Homo sapiens: one gene and its partner. The protein of the gene in region 2 interacts with the protein of the main gene of each other region in a biochemical or structural test. Each region holds a gene or a part of one and is shown on either strand. Other genes may lie near its edges.

What was found.
Region 1: the proteins of TACR3 (region 2) and TAC1 form a complex in vitro, tested with the Homo sapiens proteins (one study listed by BioGRID).

What each region holds. Positions count from the first base shown.
Region 1 is NC_000007.14:97,727,294-97,735,193, reverse strand, and holds the start of TAC1 (protachykinin-1 isoform beta precursor), read right to left. Parts: upstream 3,109-7,900; 5' UTR 2,999-3,108; intron 2,591-2,998; 5' UTR 2,582-2,590; coding exon 2,459-2,581; intron 1,472-2,458; coding exon 1,375-1,471; intron 947-1,374; coding exon 902-946; intron 369-901; coding exon 345-368; intron 1-344. UniProt on the Homo sapiens protein: Tachykinins are active peptides which excite neurons, evoke behavioral responses, are potent vasodilators and secretagogues, and contract (directly or indirectly) many smooth muscles.
Region 2 is NC_000004.12:103,590,791-103,598,074, forward strand, and holds part of TACR3 (neuromedin-K receptor), read right to left. Parts: intron 2,643-7,284; exon of another isoform or gene 2,498-2,642; intron 894-2,497; coding exon 697-893; intron 654-696; exon of another isoform or gene 417-653; intron 1-416. UniProt on the Homo sapiens protein: This is a receptor for the tachykinin neuropeptide neuromedin-K (neurokinin B). It is associated with G proteins that activate a phosphatidylinositol-calcium second messenger system.

The DNA of each region.
Region 1 (7,900 bases), on a different chromosome or scaffold from region 2:
TTGTTTGTTTACAGTGAAAGTAAGCTTAGGGGGTGGGTGGCTGGGAAGAAATATGTATGGTAGATTTCTAATCCTAGGATTGAAATTCTTCTCTAAAACTAACAATTGAAGGGACTTAAAAGACATTTTTTTCTTTTTTAATATAATGCATCTCTTTGCTAAGTACAATATGTCTAAACAACCATATTCTGGATGTAATATGAATCTCCCCCATTCTTATATTGTCTTCATTAAACATATTAAGCCCTAGAGTCATGACAGAAAATAAGGTAAGATAAATAAAGTGAAATTCAATATAATTTTACATTTAAATTTGATAAATGTCAAAATAATTTTGAACTTACTTTTGTGAGAGATCTGGCCATGTCCTAGAAGAAAGATAAAATTAGCAAACACATATAGATTTGTTTTTAAAGATGCTACATTATATCTTTTATAAAATAATTTGATTCTCAAAATATGTAACATTTTCTATCTATATATTATCCTGAGGAATAAAGCAGAACCATAAATGCTAAACAAATTATTAATCATAAAAACTAAATATTTAAACAAACAAATGGAATTTTTATTAAGTGCCTTCTATGGGATTCAAACCTAGGACTATGAGACTTCTGAGGCCTCTTATTAACTATAAGACTGTAACACATCCCACCTTCAAGGCTGGCCACCCACTGAGAGAGAGAGAGAAAGAGAGAGAGAGAGACTGAGAGAGAGTGACAGAGAGAGAGAGACAGAGAGAGTGACAGAGAGAGAGAGAAACCGAGAGAGAGTGCGCAAATCCATCTCTTTATTAAACAGGCATGACCCAGATCTTGTATTTCAGCCCATAAAAGATTTTATTTCACTTTCCTACATGTGCTTTCACAATAGTAAAATAAAGATTTATAGGAATGTTTACCATAAAGAGCCTTTAACAGGGCCACTTGTTTTTCAATTGAGGAATCTGACAAGAGACGAATTGTCATTAACTACATGTTCCACTGACCGTGCGATGAATTCAAGGAAACGATATTTCTATCCCAAGACAAATGTACTCTCACCTCAGGGAATGCTATAAAATCCTCTTCCACATGCACTTGGATCATCCGCAGTACTACCCCTGGAGGCCCGTGCCTTCCCTTTGTCAGTTTGGATCTTTAGTCAAGGGAGCGCTTCACTCGAATACAGTGAGGCATGCGAACCAGATCTTTCCCTCCCCCCGCGGGCCCGTGCGTGCCTTAGTGCGGTGTGGGCCAATGTCGCGCCTGGGGAATTACACCCCTCTTGGAGTGGAAATCTCTATTCAGAGCGAGAGACCCTGGGGTACTCCAGGAAGGAGTGAGCAGACAGGGCGGGCTGCCCAAGACACCTAGGGACGGTCGCCTATCTCACCAGCATCCCGTTTGCCCATTAATCCAAAGAACTGCTGAGGCTTGGGTCTCCGGGCGATTCTCTGCAGAAGATGCTCAAAGGGCTCCGGCAGTTCCTCCTGGGAGACAAAAGCACGGACAAAGGGCGTGTAAGGCAACCAGAGCGAGGCACCCAGCAACCCGAGCCCTTCCCCCCGCTGTACTCCGGCCCCGAGGCGTGGGGAGGCGGCCTTCCCCACGCTCGGGCTGAGCGGGGTCCCTCCCGAGGCGCTGCCTCTCTGCGCCCCTCCCCGCCGAACTCGCGTCCCGCCCCCCGCAAGCCTGCCAGGGCGAGTTAGCAGCTGGCTCGGCGTCTTCAAGCTTCGAGCGCTTTCCGCTCTTTCCTCCCAGCCCGGGGACCTTCCCTCATCTGCTGCGCCGCCACCTGACTTTGTCTTGTCTCGGTGCCGGCTTTGTAGAGTCCTCACCGCCCTAAATGCACACAGGTGTGTGGGATCTGGGGCTGGGGCTCCGGTGGGGAAGGGTGACAACGCTTTACAGACGACTTTCACCGTTTTTCCGAGGCGCGCTCCCCAGCGCCTGTAGCCTACGAGTTTCTAAAGGGAGACTTCAAGCTACATCCTCAGGTCCGCAAAACAAACGTGAAGGCAGGAAATTAACTTCCCTCCAGCCTCCGGCCCTCCAATCCCCCTGCAGCTCGCGCGTGTGCCCGCTGCTGCCCGCGACCCAGGCGCCCTCCTCTGCCCGTGCCCAGACGCTAGGGCAGTGCAGCTGGACCGGAGCCCCCGAAATCCCAGGTCCTGGGGGATGAAATCTTACGAGATTTCCCGCCTTGTGAGGATCTCGGGCTCATCCGGGAGGGCATCCCTACTGCAGGGAGTTCCTGGGCCGGACGGTGCAGCCCTCGGGAAGAAACTTGAATCGTGGGCACAAAATCCCGTGGGGAACCCGGGAAATAGTGCCCCTTTCCATCCTCTCGCACGCAACCGCTGCCTCTTTCCGTGGTGGCGGTGCGTGCCACGTTAACTAGGGTGCTGTTGCGTGGGAAGGTGACAGCTCCCGAGCCCAGGAAGAAGGGTGCGGGCCGTCCTGGGAAGGGGCCTCACCTTGATCTGGTCGCTGTCGTACCAGTCGGACCAGTAATTCAGATCATCATTGGCTCCTATTTCTTCTGCAAACAGCTGAGTGGAGACAAGAAAAAAGACTGCCAAGGCCACGAGGATTTTCATGTTGGATTTCTGGGAAGGGGTAGGAGGAGAAGACACCAAAGAGAGAAATAATGTATCTATTAGGGGTGGTTATCCAAGAGTTAAAGCAACAGAATTTTCTGCCCCACAACGGATGAACCAAGATCAAAAACATAAGGACTGAAGTCTCACCTGTACCGGTTAGGCGAGAGAATCGCGTCCCAAAGATTCTCCAACCCTCTTCTCCCTGAATCCCAACTCCCCCAGCCCCCTAACCCACCAACCCACACCTTCAAACCAGGAAACTCTGCAGGTGGAAGACAAAGAGGGGCGTTGGCGTTTGGGAAGCCAGTCTCCCCACTGTCCCTCGCCGCAGCGGCGCCCCCAGCGCGGCCACCTCGGACAGATGCGGGGCGGGGTGACCCGGGCAGCCGCGGCCAGCACCGCGCGGGCACTTACTGCGACGGACAGTCCCGCGGGGTGCTGAGTTTCTCTGGTTCCTCCGAGCGCACGCTGGTCGCTCCGCACTCTCGGTAGCTGCCGCCGGGAAGGAGGTCCGAGCGCGCTCTTTCGCCTGCTCAGTGCCTTGCGGTATTTATCCCAGCCTCCTTGAGCCTCCAGACCCACGTGACATTCTCCCCACGCGACTTTCTGCTCAATATTTAATTAGCCGCCTCCTCTCCTTTCGCTTGCGTGATTGAGAGTTTCCGAGACGGTAACTCGTCGATGCCCATAACATCTGGACCCAATTGGGTTCTAAATGACGCAATTTTAGGAAAATCGAGGTCTCGCCATCCAATCCGGAGCGGCCTGCTTCCGTCTGCAGATCTGACGCCCCCTCCCCTCTCCTTCGAAACTGGGTTTCATGACACCTGATATTACTCATCAAATTTGAGCAAAGTGACTCATTCCTTGGACTTCGGTAACTTTTCCGTCCCTCGAGACGTCAGGATAAGTTGCACTTTTCAGGATGGCCAAATAACTGTAGGCATTCAGACATTTCGTCGGAAATCAGGCTAAAAAAAGAGGACTACACTTGAGGGGAGATGCGGGGAAGCATTATTTTCCCTTCTATTTCTAGCTTAATAGTATTTAAGTGTTTCTGAGACACAGCATCGTTCTATAACCAGAACATCCCTCTTCTAAATCAACGCGAATACTGGCTTTTCCTTAGCATAACAAAAGGATGTTTAGTCCCATAGTATTTTAGAAGATGGAAGCAGATTTATTTTACATTTTGGAGAAAGGGGAATTTAAACATGACATTGTGTGTCAGACTTAGGATTTCTTTTGTTTCAAGCCGGGTAACTCCTCTTCCTTGCCACATCCAGGAGCAGGGGTTGAACAGGACGTTTTTTGCTTCTCTCCTACACTTTCTTGCTGAAGACTAGGAAACCAGCAACATAGTGTGTAGGATCCTCACCCTTGTCACTAAAGGGCTCTATAAATCATGTTTCTCCTTTCTATGAAAGTAAGTGTAGTGAAGATGCTAATGGGACAGTCATTAACAGCACAAAATATTAGACAAATAGCATTTGTACAGAAACCACACCTTTCCATGAGCCCTTGGTTGCCTGGCAGACACATTTCTTTGATCTCCAAATGAATTAAAAGATGTGACATCTTTGGTGGAGTAGTTTTCTCCCCTTTACATATGAAGTATTATATTTTTCAATTAATTATGATTTTTTAGTATATTGCATAAAAGAAATAAATTTTTGCAACTCAAACCAGAAGTATTTTTTTCTCTATGTTGTTCTTAAATAATCCTGAATTTGGAAATTCTCATGCATCTCTGATTTCTTTTGGCCTTAGCCTCACAATGTGAGCATTTTATTTTCCGTTTTCAGAACTTTTATATGGAAAATTATAAGCATATCCAAAAGTAGAGAGAAACATCCACTTCCAAGTTTCATCTACAACCCTTCCAGTTTCCTCTGCACTGAGATTATTTTGAAAAAAATCCCAGACAGTTAATCATTTCAACTGTAAATATTTCAGCATGTCTGTATAAAGGTAGGAATTAAAAAAAATAAAAACATATCCACGCCATTATCCCACCTAAAACAACATAAAATAATTCCTTACATTAAATATCCAGTTAGCATTCAAATATTTCTCATTGCTTCCTAATTCCGGCCCACACAGTTTACTACTTGAAATCAGAATTATAATGAAGTCCATACATTACAATTGGTTTTGTTAGTTCAGGCTGCTGTAAGAAAGTACCATGGTCTGGGTGACGTAAACAACAGAAATTTATTTCTCACAGTTTCGAAGGTTGGAAGTCTGAGATCGTGGTGTCAGCATGGTCTGGTTGTGTTTAAGGCCCTCTTCCAGGTTACAGACTGTCATATTGTCTCCTTGTTATATCCTCACATGGCAGGAAAGAATGAGAGAGCTCTTCAAAGTCCCTTTTATCGGGGCACTGATCTCATTCATAAGAGCTGCACCATCATGATCTAATTATCTTCCAAAGACCCCACTTCCTAATACCATAACCTTAGGGGTTACGATTTCAACACATGCATTTTGGAGGGACACGAACATTCCTTCTACTGCATGTTTCTTAAATCTCCCTGAATCTGTAATTCGCTCTCTCTTTCTCTCTCTATTGTAGTTTATTGATAAGACAGGTCAGGAGAGTGTACCGCATTCTGGACTTTGCTGATTGCCTTTTAACTTGTTTCTCTGTTTCGATTATTTCCTGTTAATTGGTAGTTGTATCTAGAAGTTTGATCCTCTGTACATTTTTTTCTTTTTCCTTTTCTTTTTCTTTTTTTTTTTTTTTGATGAGACTACTTCACATGTGTTGTGTTGTTCTGGTAGGAAGCACATGATATGTGGTTGTTTCTCCTTTTGAGTTGTTAGCAGCCATTGACTATCATTTTCTAGATCTATTAATTCATTAGTATTTTCAAAACAGTGCTATGTTGATTTTATCATTCATTATTTGTCTGGTAGGCAGACTTGTTTCTTTCATGTTTCTCAGCAACTAGTTATTCTAAAGCATTATTAATATAGGAAAGATGGGATAAATGCTTGATTATGTCTCTCTACCAATTTTGAAAATAATGAATTGGTAAATTAACACCTTTTAATAAGACCCACTTTAAAAAATTAGGATTATTATGACTTCCTGGATTTAAACACATTTGACATACAGTCATCACTCAGTATGCATAGGGGATTGGCTGTAGGACCTCCTGTAGGTATCAAAACCTGTGGATGCTCAAGTCCCTGATGCAAAATGGTGTGGTATTTGAATATAACCTATGCACATCGTCTCATATATTTTAAATAATCTCTAGATTACTTATGATACTTAATATAATATAAAGGCAGTGTAAATAGTTGTTATACTGTATTATGTGGGGAATAACACAAAGGGAAAAAGTCTGTATGTGTTTAGCACGGATGCATTTTTTTCTAAATATTTATGACCTATGTTTGGTTAAATCTATAGATGCAGAACCCATGGATACAGGGGGCCAACTATATTTCAATCCATGGCAGGCATTCTTCTAATTGAAGTTCAGACCTATTCTTGGCCTGCAGGTGACTCTTCAAAGTGACTCCTGAGACTTTATGCCAATAGGCTTTGATGGCTTTTTCTTGTTTTTGGTATGACAAAATGTTTCGGGTCAAAGTTATATACGTTTTGCTTCTGACCCGAAATCTGCCTTTAAGGGGCCCTAATTTTAGAATTGAAAATGACCATTAGAGATCATAAACTGGGCTTTATTTTTACACGTTGTTAGTGAGTTCTTCATTGCTTCAAGACCTTTTCAGCAGACAGAGCTGAGAACAATGTGTGTGTGTGTGTCTCTCTGTGTGTGTGTGTGTGTGTGTATCTATAATCATGAATGTATACCGACTTTCTTTTCAAATCAGGATCTCATAGAGTTTTTAATTAACCTTTTGCATCTCTTTTTCCATACTCCAAATGACATCAACATGATTATTCATTAGCTTTATCCCAATACATGGTGCCAATATGATCAACAATATCATTACTGGAAACAGATTAAGAGTTTTTGTTTGCAGTTTTGTTCTTTTTTAATCTTTAGAGCATATCACACCAGGTATGTTCGGTCATATTACTGTGTTATAAAGTCTCTTTACAAGTTCTTTGTATGGTTATGCTACCAACTCTTACACAGGTAGATTCATTTTCTCATTCTGCTCAAGTTATAGGGATCATTTTTTAAAAGTAAGTTTAGAATTATGTAAAATACATGGTTCTAAACTCAAATATTAAAAACATTATGTGGCCGGGCGTGATGGCTCACGCTTGTAATCCCAGCACTTTGGGAGGCCGGGGTGGGTGGATCACAAGGTGATGAGTTTGAGACCAGCCTGGCCAATACAGTGAAACCCCGTGTCTACTAAAAATACAAAAATTAGCTGGGCGTGATGGCGGGCGCCTGTAATCCCAGCTACTTGGGAGGCTGAGGCAGGTTAATTGCTTGAACGCGAGAGGTGGAGTTTGCAGCGAGCCAAGATGCCACTGCACTCAGCCTGGGCAACAGAGCTAGAATCTGTCTCAAAAACAAACAAACAAACAAAAAACATTATGTATTGAAAGAAGTGTACCTTCAGTCCCTATCTCTCTGCTCTCTTATGTCTAGTAACCATTTCTTTTTAGGTTTTTGGTTTAGGCTTATATTGCTATTGTTGTTATTTTAATATAAGAAACGATGTGATAATTTCCCCCTAAATCTTGTAAAATTCTATACCTGAAGTGGGACATTTTAGAAATTTTTTTAATTTCTCAGATACTAATGTGGTTTATGGTTTATGAGGTAACAAGACAGCTACTTTATAATATCTAAACTGCTAGTTCTGTATAACCAGTTGTATAATTTTATTCAGATGCTGTATGTTGTAAATGTGCCATAGTACATAAAATAGAGGTTATTTCACAGAATTGAGTAGTAAACAATAATGAGATAAAAGGTATATCCAAGAATACATTTCCCACATTCCCCACATCATTCATTAATTGCTAACTTAGGGATCCTACTAAGACATGCACGTTTTGCACACTTTCCCTTTGAACATTGTAGAGGTTGAGATATTTGCATTCTTTATTACCTGTTTTATTTCCTAGGATAAGTTTATGAAAAAATACATATTAATAAAGTACATATGTTTAATGCATGCTAAATTCATGATTAGTAGACTGGTGAACAAGTAATTCATTAATACCTCATTTTTTATGTTGCAAATTAAATTTGCAACATAAATTAAAAACCCGGACAAAAGTAAAAAAAAAATTACTATTGTCCATTTTCTCATCACTCAAAAGGAACCACTGTTAACATCTTGGTATACTGCTTATAATATTTACTTATTTAT
Region 2 (7,284 bases):
ACCAGTACAACCAAGGTGTTTTTATCTGGAAAGCAGATTTTATCTTTTTTTTCTAGTCTTACATTTGACTACAAATATTCTCACTTTTCATTTTTTAACTTTATAAACATCTTTCCCTTGACCACTGTGATTTCTTCACAAGCCATCTCCATAGAGGCTGCATGCTCTCTTACTCACCCCACCTCACAATGCAGGAAGGAGGATTGGAGTTCCCATTGTTTTTACAAAACCTTCTACTTCAAAGTTTATTTATTTACAACATATCCTTTTTAATAAAGTCCGCTCACATATGCCATCATCTCTCCATCTTATAGAAATTATTCAAGAATTTCTAGGAAGTAACTTCATTTCATTGAGGATTTGAGCATATTTTCAATTCTCCTTTAATCATGAGGGCACTTCTTTTTCTTTGGCAGGTAAAATTCTGAGATTTTGGAGGAAGAAGTTGGCCCATAGAAGAATCATCCAGTTAGAACCCCAAGATCATTATTTGGGGCATCTAATTATTAATGTGGGATGCTTTATAAAGTGTGTATGGGGGTCTTGAAAGATAAAGCCTGTGCCTCTCTCAGTGAATTCTTAAATTTTCCCTTCCTTCTGCATTTTGAATTTGAACCAAGAAAATGGAACAACATTGTATGTTTCCAGTGAAGGTGGGTGTGACAAGCAACTTGCATTTCGTAGTTTTGTTTTTACCTTTTATTCAGACAGCAGTAGATGATGGGATTGTACATGGTTGAGCTCATTGCCAGCCAAAAGCTAGCCAGGTAGACCTGCTGGATGTATTTCCATCTATTTAGTTGTTGATAGATTGCAGTGAGAATGAAGTAAATATGATAGGGCAGCCAGCAGATAGCAAATGTCATGACAACAATAATCATCATTTTGACAACCTATAAAGAAAAAAAGTCATTTTTGACAAATATAATACTCATAATAGTTCCAATAGCTTATTGCAAATCATGCTTTTCTGCCAATACAGTTAAATACACATCATGCCTAGGGAATAGTCAATATATTAAAAAATGGTGAAGCAATATACGGACAGTTGCCTAAGGTAAGTCTCAAGAAATTATGCTATGTCACTATTCATTTCTACCTATCTAAGTGAATGGGTAGTGCTAACTCAAACACGGACAAATATATTTTGATTGGCCTGAAGAAAATCAGTGTTTACAAAAACCCAGAGAGCCTGGAACAGAGAGAGATAGGAACTAGGATGTGGCTGTGTAGCCTGCATTGTACGATAGTGGAGATATTATCTCCAGGAAATCAACTGTTAAGTCACTATGGAGGTTTACTAGGCTGCTAGGGCTGGGTTTGTTCAAGTCAGTACTCTTCTATAGCCTGACTATAGCTTAAGACTATTTAGATTTCTTTAATAGCCTGCTCACTACGTAACCTTATGAATATTAATTTGGTTTCTCTTATAATCTGATATTGGGGAAGATTTCCCCAAATAGTGATTATGTGTAAATATTCACGTTAGTGTGAGGAAAATACTAACTTGAGATTTGCAAATAGATTATTGGTTTATGCAACTGTTTTATGCATTAGCTTTTATGACTTTGGTAAGCATAAGCCATTTCCTTTGATTGTATACTTGTGAATGATAATATCCTGGACAGCTCTAATCAAAGTAGAATGTCAGCTGTTATTTCTCTTCCACTAGGCCTAAAATTCCTGAAGACAGAATGTCTTAATTATCTTTTTACTCCCAGCATCTATCACAGTCCTTGATATATAGCTGGAGATAAATATATATAGGATGAATGAATAATAAATAGCAATGTACAATGAACAATGTTCATATCTCTTTTGGGAATTTGGAAATAGTAAAAAGTTTAAAATAAGATACTTTAAGCTAAACAATTTTGAAGCTTACCTGCAGTCAGATTAAAACAAATCAGGGAAAGCTCTGATGTAAAGGGCCTATGAGGCACCTCAGAACTAGGAAGATACAGTATTTATGAAATGGACTTGTCATTTGACTGCAAATTAGGGATTCAGATGAAGGTTGGCAAGGTTTAGTCAGGAGAGACATGATTTTAGAAATAGGCAAAGCATGAAATGGATCAATGTGGAAGGTAACTCTTCCCTAAGGGCCAAATCACTGTACCATCCAGGTGGCCAGCATTGAGCAGATGGAAATTGGCCATCAGAGTTGAAAATCCAGGTCAACAGCTCACAAAATGTCATCACTGGCCACATCACATAATATCTTTTGATTTTCCCAGTGTTCTTTAAATTACATTGCTTTCTTCTGAAGAACTGCTTTTGTATTTCTGCATTTTATTTCTCAGATTTCCTATTCATAATTCATATATTTGTGAAAAACAAATGATTTAATTTACATTTATGCAATATTTTACGTATTTAACAATTAATTAATTGTCTTTCAATTGCGCATTAGGAAATTGAGGCAAAAACCCAAAGATCTGACCACTGTGATTCATGTAACTAAGATCTTTCTTGTCTTTTTACCCTCTATTTACAGATAAAAACATCTGTTGAATATCTTGAGTCTAGAAAATAACATTGAAAATATAGTGGTTGAGGACCAATTCCTCATCCTGAAGTTTACAATGTAATGAAAAAAAGGAAATGTATAATTTTAATAAAAATGCATGCATTGAAATGTGGTGAGTATGAACATGTGCAGATAAAATTTAAAATAATATTTATGAGAATGTACTAGTTTATTGTAATAAAGAATGACTCAATACATGCCTACTAACTGTAGGCTCAGAGGATATTAGACTAAATGAAATTAGTCTACTGATGTTTTCATTGTTGAATTTGTGAGCATTCTACTATTCCTTGAACAGGGTAGTTAAGCTCCAGCCATAGATTATTTTCCCTGGCTCCTCCCTCTACCTAGAACACTCTTCTAACCATGATTCCCAGGGCTTAAGTACCTCACCTCCTTCAAGCCGTTGCACAATTGTCATTTTTTCTTTGAGTGCTATTCTGACCAATTAATTTAAAATCACAGTCTGCCCTTCCAGCCCTCCCAGAACCTCTTAGCTTGCTCTTTCTCTTCAGTTTGTTATGTTTTTTCTTTATTTTGTGTCTCCTGATGCTGGACTACAAAAGAGCAAGGATTTTCTGTTTGTTTTGTTCATTTGTATATTTCGGGCACCTAGACTGGACTTCATACATAAAGGGTACTCAGAAATTTTTTAAATGAACAGGTGAAAGTGACTATAAAACAAAAGAAACTGAAAGACGCAGACAGTTAAGTAATGTCTAAGATTTTAGTCAGTTATTACTAGTATCATTTGGTTTTCATTTAAGATGGACATGTGTATGTAAAATAAGCATGGAATTTACTGCTATTTCTGCTTTCAAGGCAAACAAATTTAAAAAGAGAATGAGTCCAAAAATAACCTTTTTTTTTTTTTGAGACAGAGTCTCACTCTTGTCACCCAGGCTGGAGTGCAGTGGTGCGATCTTGGCTCACTGCAACCTCTGCCTCCCGGGTTCAAGTAATTCTTCTGCCTCAGCCTCCCAAGTAGCTGGGATTACAGGAGCGTGCCACCACGCCTGGCTAATTTTTGTATTTTTAGTAGAGACAGGGTGTTACCATAGTGGCCAGGCTTGTCTCAAACTCCTGACCTTGTAGATCCACCCACCTCGGCCTCCCAAAATTCTGGGATTACAGGTGTGAGACACTGCACCCGGCCTAATATAATTATTTTCATGGGGCACATGAAAGCATTAGATTTCATTCTAAGCAAATGTTAAGAGCAAGTAAAATATCTTTGAGAATGTTAACATATATTGTATTTGAATCTTTTATACAGACTGACTACAAACTCCCTATGCACAAAATTGTTTTCCGACAATTGCTGAAAACCTACTAAGGCTATCAGTCCTTTTAGATAAATTTCAATTTTCATAGTGCAAAAAGTTCAGAAAAACATGCAAAAATTAAAATGCATGTGGAAAATGGAACAGAGACTTCAGATAGCTTTTAACTCACATACAGAGGGCCTTTAGAACTTCTTGCGAAAGATTTATAAACATATTTTAAAAATTTTAAGAAAAGCTTAAAATACTCTACAGAAATGTTTATAAGTGAAACAGCTGCTATAATATATTTTCTGTACTTATTTCTATATAATACTGTTACCTTGGCACTCTGCTTACAAAATCTTGTAGTGTTATTTCAGATGATGAACTCTCTGGACTCTAGTTTTGATGTGAATGCAAACGTAGGCTCTTGGGTGGGAGAAATTGTCTTGCTTTGTGAAATGCTGAAATCACAAAACTGAAATCACCCTCCTGATAAAATGCCAAAGAAAAGAGCTCTTTGAAGCATGAAGCTTGAGCAATGATAGATGTGCAGGTGCTATGAGCAGTTACCACTGTATTGCATGGCTGAACAATGGTACTAGTGCAGGCAGGCTATGAACTGTTAAACAGAAAAAAGAATCAGGTGGTAAACTTTAAGAAATTCTTGAGATTTTTAGGCAAGATGACAATCTGGGACAGAGAAGGTTCAAATCTCTCATCGTGTCTTAATAATGTTATTAAGTGGGTAGCCACCCATTACCCTTGGAAACTTACAAGCAGGATAAAGGAGGAAAGTGGGGACATGTAATGTAGCCCTTACAAAGTTACATTGCCTATTTTTAGCAGTTAAGAATCTAACTACGTAGGCAGGATGGAACTGCATGTCCTCATATATTAGTGAGAATGAACTTTGGATACCATTCCTTCATGTATCAAAGGGGAAAGATCTTAGATTTTTGTATACCGTACAGATTAGAACTGAAATGCCTACAGTTGTTCTTATTCATTACATTAAATTAGTGTAGGATGGATGATTTTGAGGTTTGGGTTGTAAAAGCAAAAATTAGTTTAGGAAATTAACTAAAATGCTGACAACTATTTAGAAAACTCTAGGGGTCATATTCTTTTTTTTTTAATTTTGGCAATATTATCTTCTAATTATTTTATTTTTATTATTATACTTTAAGTTTTAGGGTACATGTGCACAATGTGCAGGTTAGTTACATATGTATACATGTGCCATGCTGGTGTGCTGCACCCACTAACTCATCATCTAGCATTAGGTATATCTCCCAATGCTATCCCTCCCCCCTCCCCCCACCCCACAACAGTCCCCAGAGTGTGATGTTCCCCTTCCTGTGTCCATATGTTCTCATTGTTCAATACCCACCTATGAGTGAGAATATGTGGTGTTTGGTTTTTTGTTCTTGTGATAGTTTACTGAGAATGATGATTTCCAATTTCATCCATGTCCCTACAAAGGACATGAACTCATCCTTTTTTATGGCTGCATAGTATTCCATGGTGTATATGTGTCACGTTTTCTTAATCCAGTCTATCATTGTTGGACATTTGGGGTGGTTCCAAGTCTTTGCTATTGTGAATAGTGCCGCAATAAACATACGTGTGCATGTGTCTTTATAGCAGCATAATTTATAATCCTTTGGGTATATACCCAGTAATGGGATGGCTGGGTCAAATGGTATTTCTAGTTCTACATCCCTGAGGAATCGCCACACTGACTTCCACAATGGTTGAACTAGTTTACAGTCCCACCAACAGTGTAAAAGTGTTCCTATTTCTCCACATCCTCTCCAGCACCTGTTGTTTCCTGACTTTTTAAAGATTGCCATTCTAACTGGTGTGAGACGATATCTCATTGTGGTTTTGGTTTGCATTTGTCTGTTGGTACAGGATTGATTCTTTCTAAATGCTTGGAATAAAAATGGTCAGCTAGGTGTGACAAAAAACAAAACAAAACAAAACTGCTTGTTTTGATTAGAATCCTTTTTTTAAAATTTTATTATTATTATACTTTAAGTTTTAGGGTACATGTGCACAATGTGCAGGTTTGTTACATATGGATACATGTCCCATGTTGGTCTGCTGCACCCATTAACTCGTCATTTACATTAGGTATATCTCCTAATGCTATCCCTCCCCCGTCCCCCTACCCCACAAGAGTCCCCAGTGTGTGATGTTCCCCTTCCTGTGTCCATGTGTTCTCATTGTTCAATTCCCACCTGTGAGTGAGAACATGCAGTTTGGTTTTTTGTCCTTGCGATAGTTTGCTGAGAATGATGGTTTCCAGCTTCATCCATGTCCCTACAAAGGACACGAACTCATCATTTTTTATGGCTGCATAGTATTCCATGGTGTATATGTGCCACATTTTCTTAATCCAGTCTATCATTGTTGGACATTTGGGTTGGTTCCAAGTCTTTGCTATTGTGAATAGTGCCGCAATAAACACATGTGTGCATGCGTCTTTATAGCAGCATAATTTATAATCCTTTGGGTATATACCCAGTAATGGGAAGGCTGGGTCAAATGGTATTTCTAGTTCTAGTTCCCTGAGGAATTGCCACACTGACTTCCACAATGGTTGAACTAGTTTACAGTCCCACCAACAGTGTAAAAGTGTTCCTATTTCTCCACATCCTCTCCAGCACCTGTTGTTTCCTGACTTTTTAAAGATTGCCATTCTAACTGGTGTGAGATGATATCTCATTGTGGTTTTGGTTTGCATTTCTCTGTTGGTACAAGATTGATTCTTTCTAAATGCTTGGAATAAAAATGGTCAGCTTGGTGTGACAAAAAACAAAACACAACAAAACTGCTTGTTTTGATTAGAATCCTTTTTTTTAAATTTTATTATTATTATACTTTAAGTTTTAGGGTACAAGTGCACAACGTGCAGGTTTGTTACATATGTATACATGTGCCATGTTGGTCTGCTGCACCCATTAACTCGTCATTTACATTAGGTACATCTCCTAATGCTATCCCTCCCCCGTCCCCCCACCCCACAAGAGTCCCCAGTGTGTGATGTTCCCCTTCCTGTGTCCATGTGTTCTCATTGTTCAATTCCCACCTGTGAGTGAGAACATGCAGTTTGGTTTTTTGTCCTTGTAATAGTTTGCTGAGAATGATGGTTTCCAGTTTCATCCATGTCCCTACAAAGGACATGAACTCATCATAATTTATGGCTGCATAGTATTCCATGGTGTATATGTGCCACATTTTCTTAATTCAGTCTATTGTTTTTGGACATTTAAGTTGGTTCCAAGTCTTTGCTATTGTGAATAGTGCCGCTATAAACATACGTGTGCATGTGTCTTTATAACAGCATGATTTATAATCCTTTGGGGATATACCCAGTAATGGGATGGCTAGGTCAAATGGTATTTCTAGTTCTAGATCCCTGAGGAATCGCCACACCGACTTCCACAGTGGTTGAACTAGTTTACAGTCCCACCAACAGTG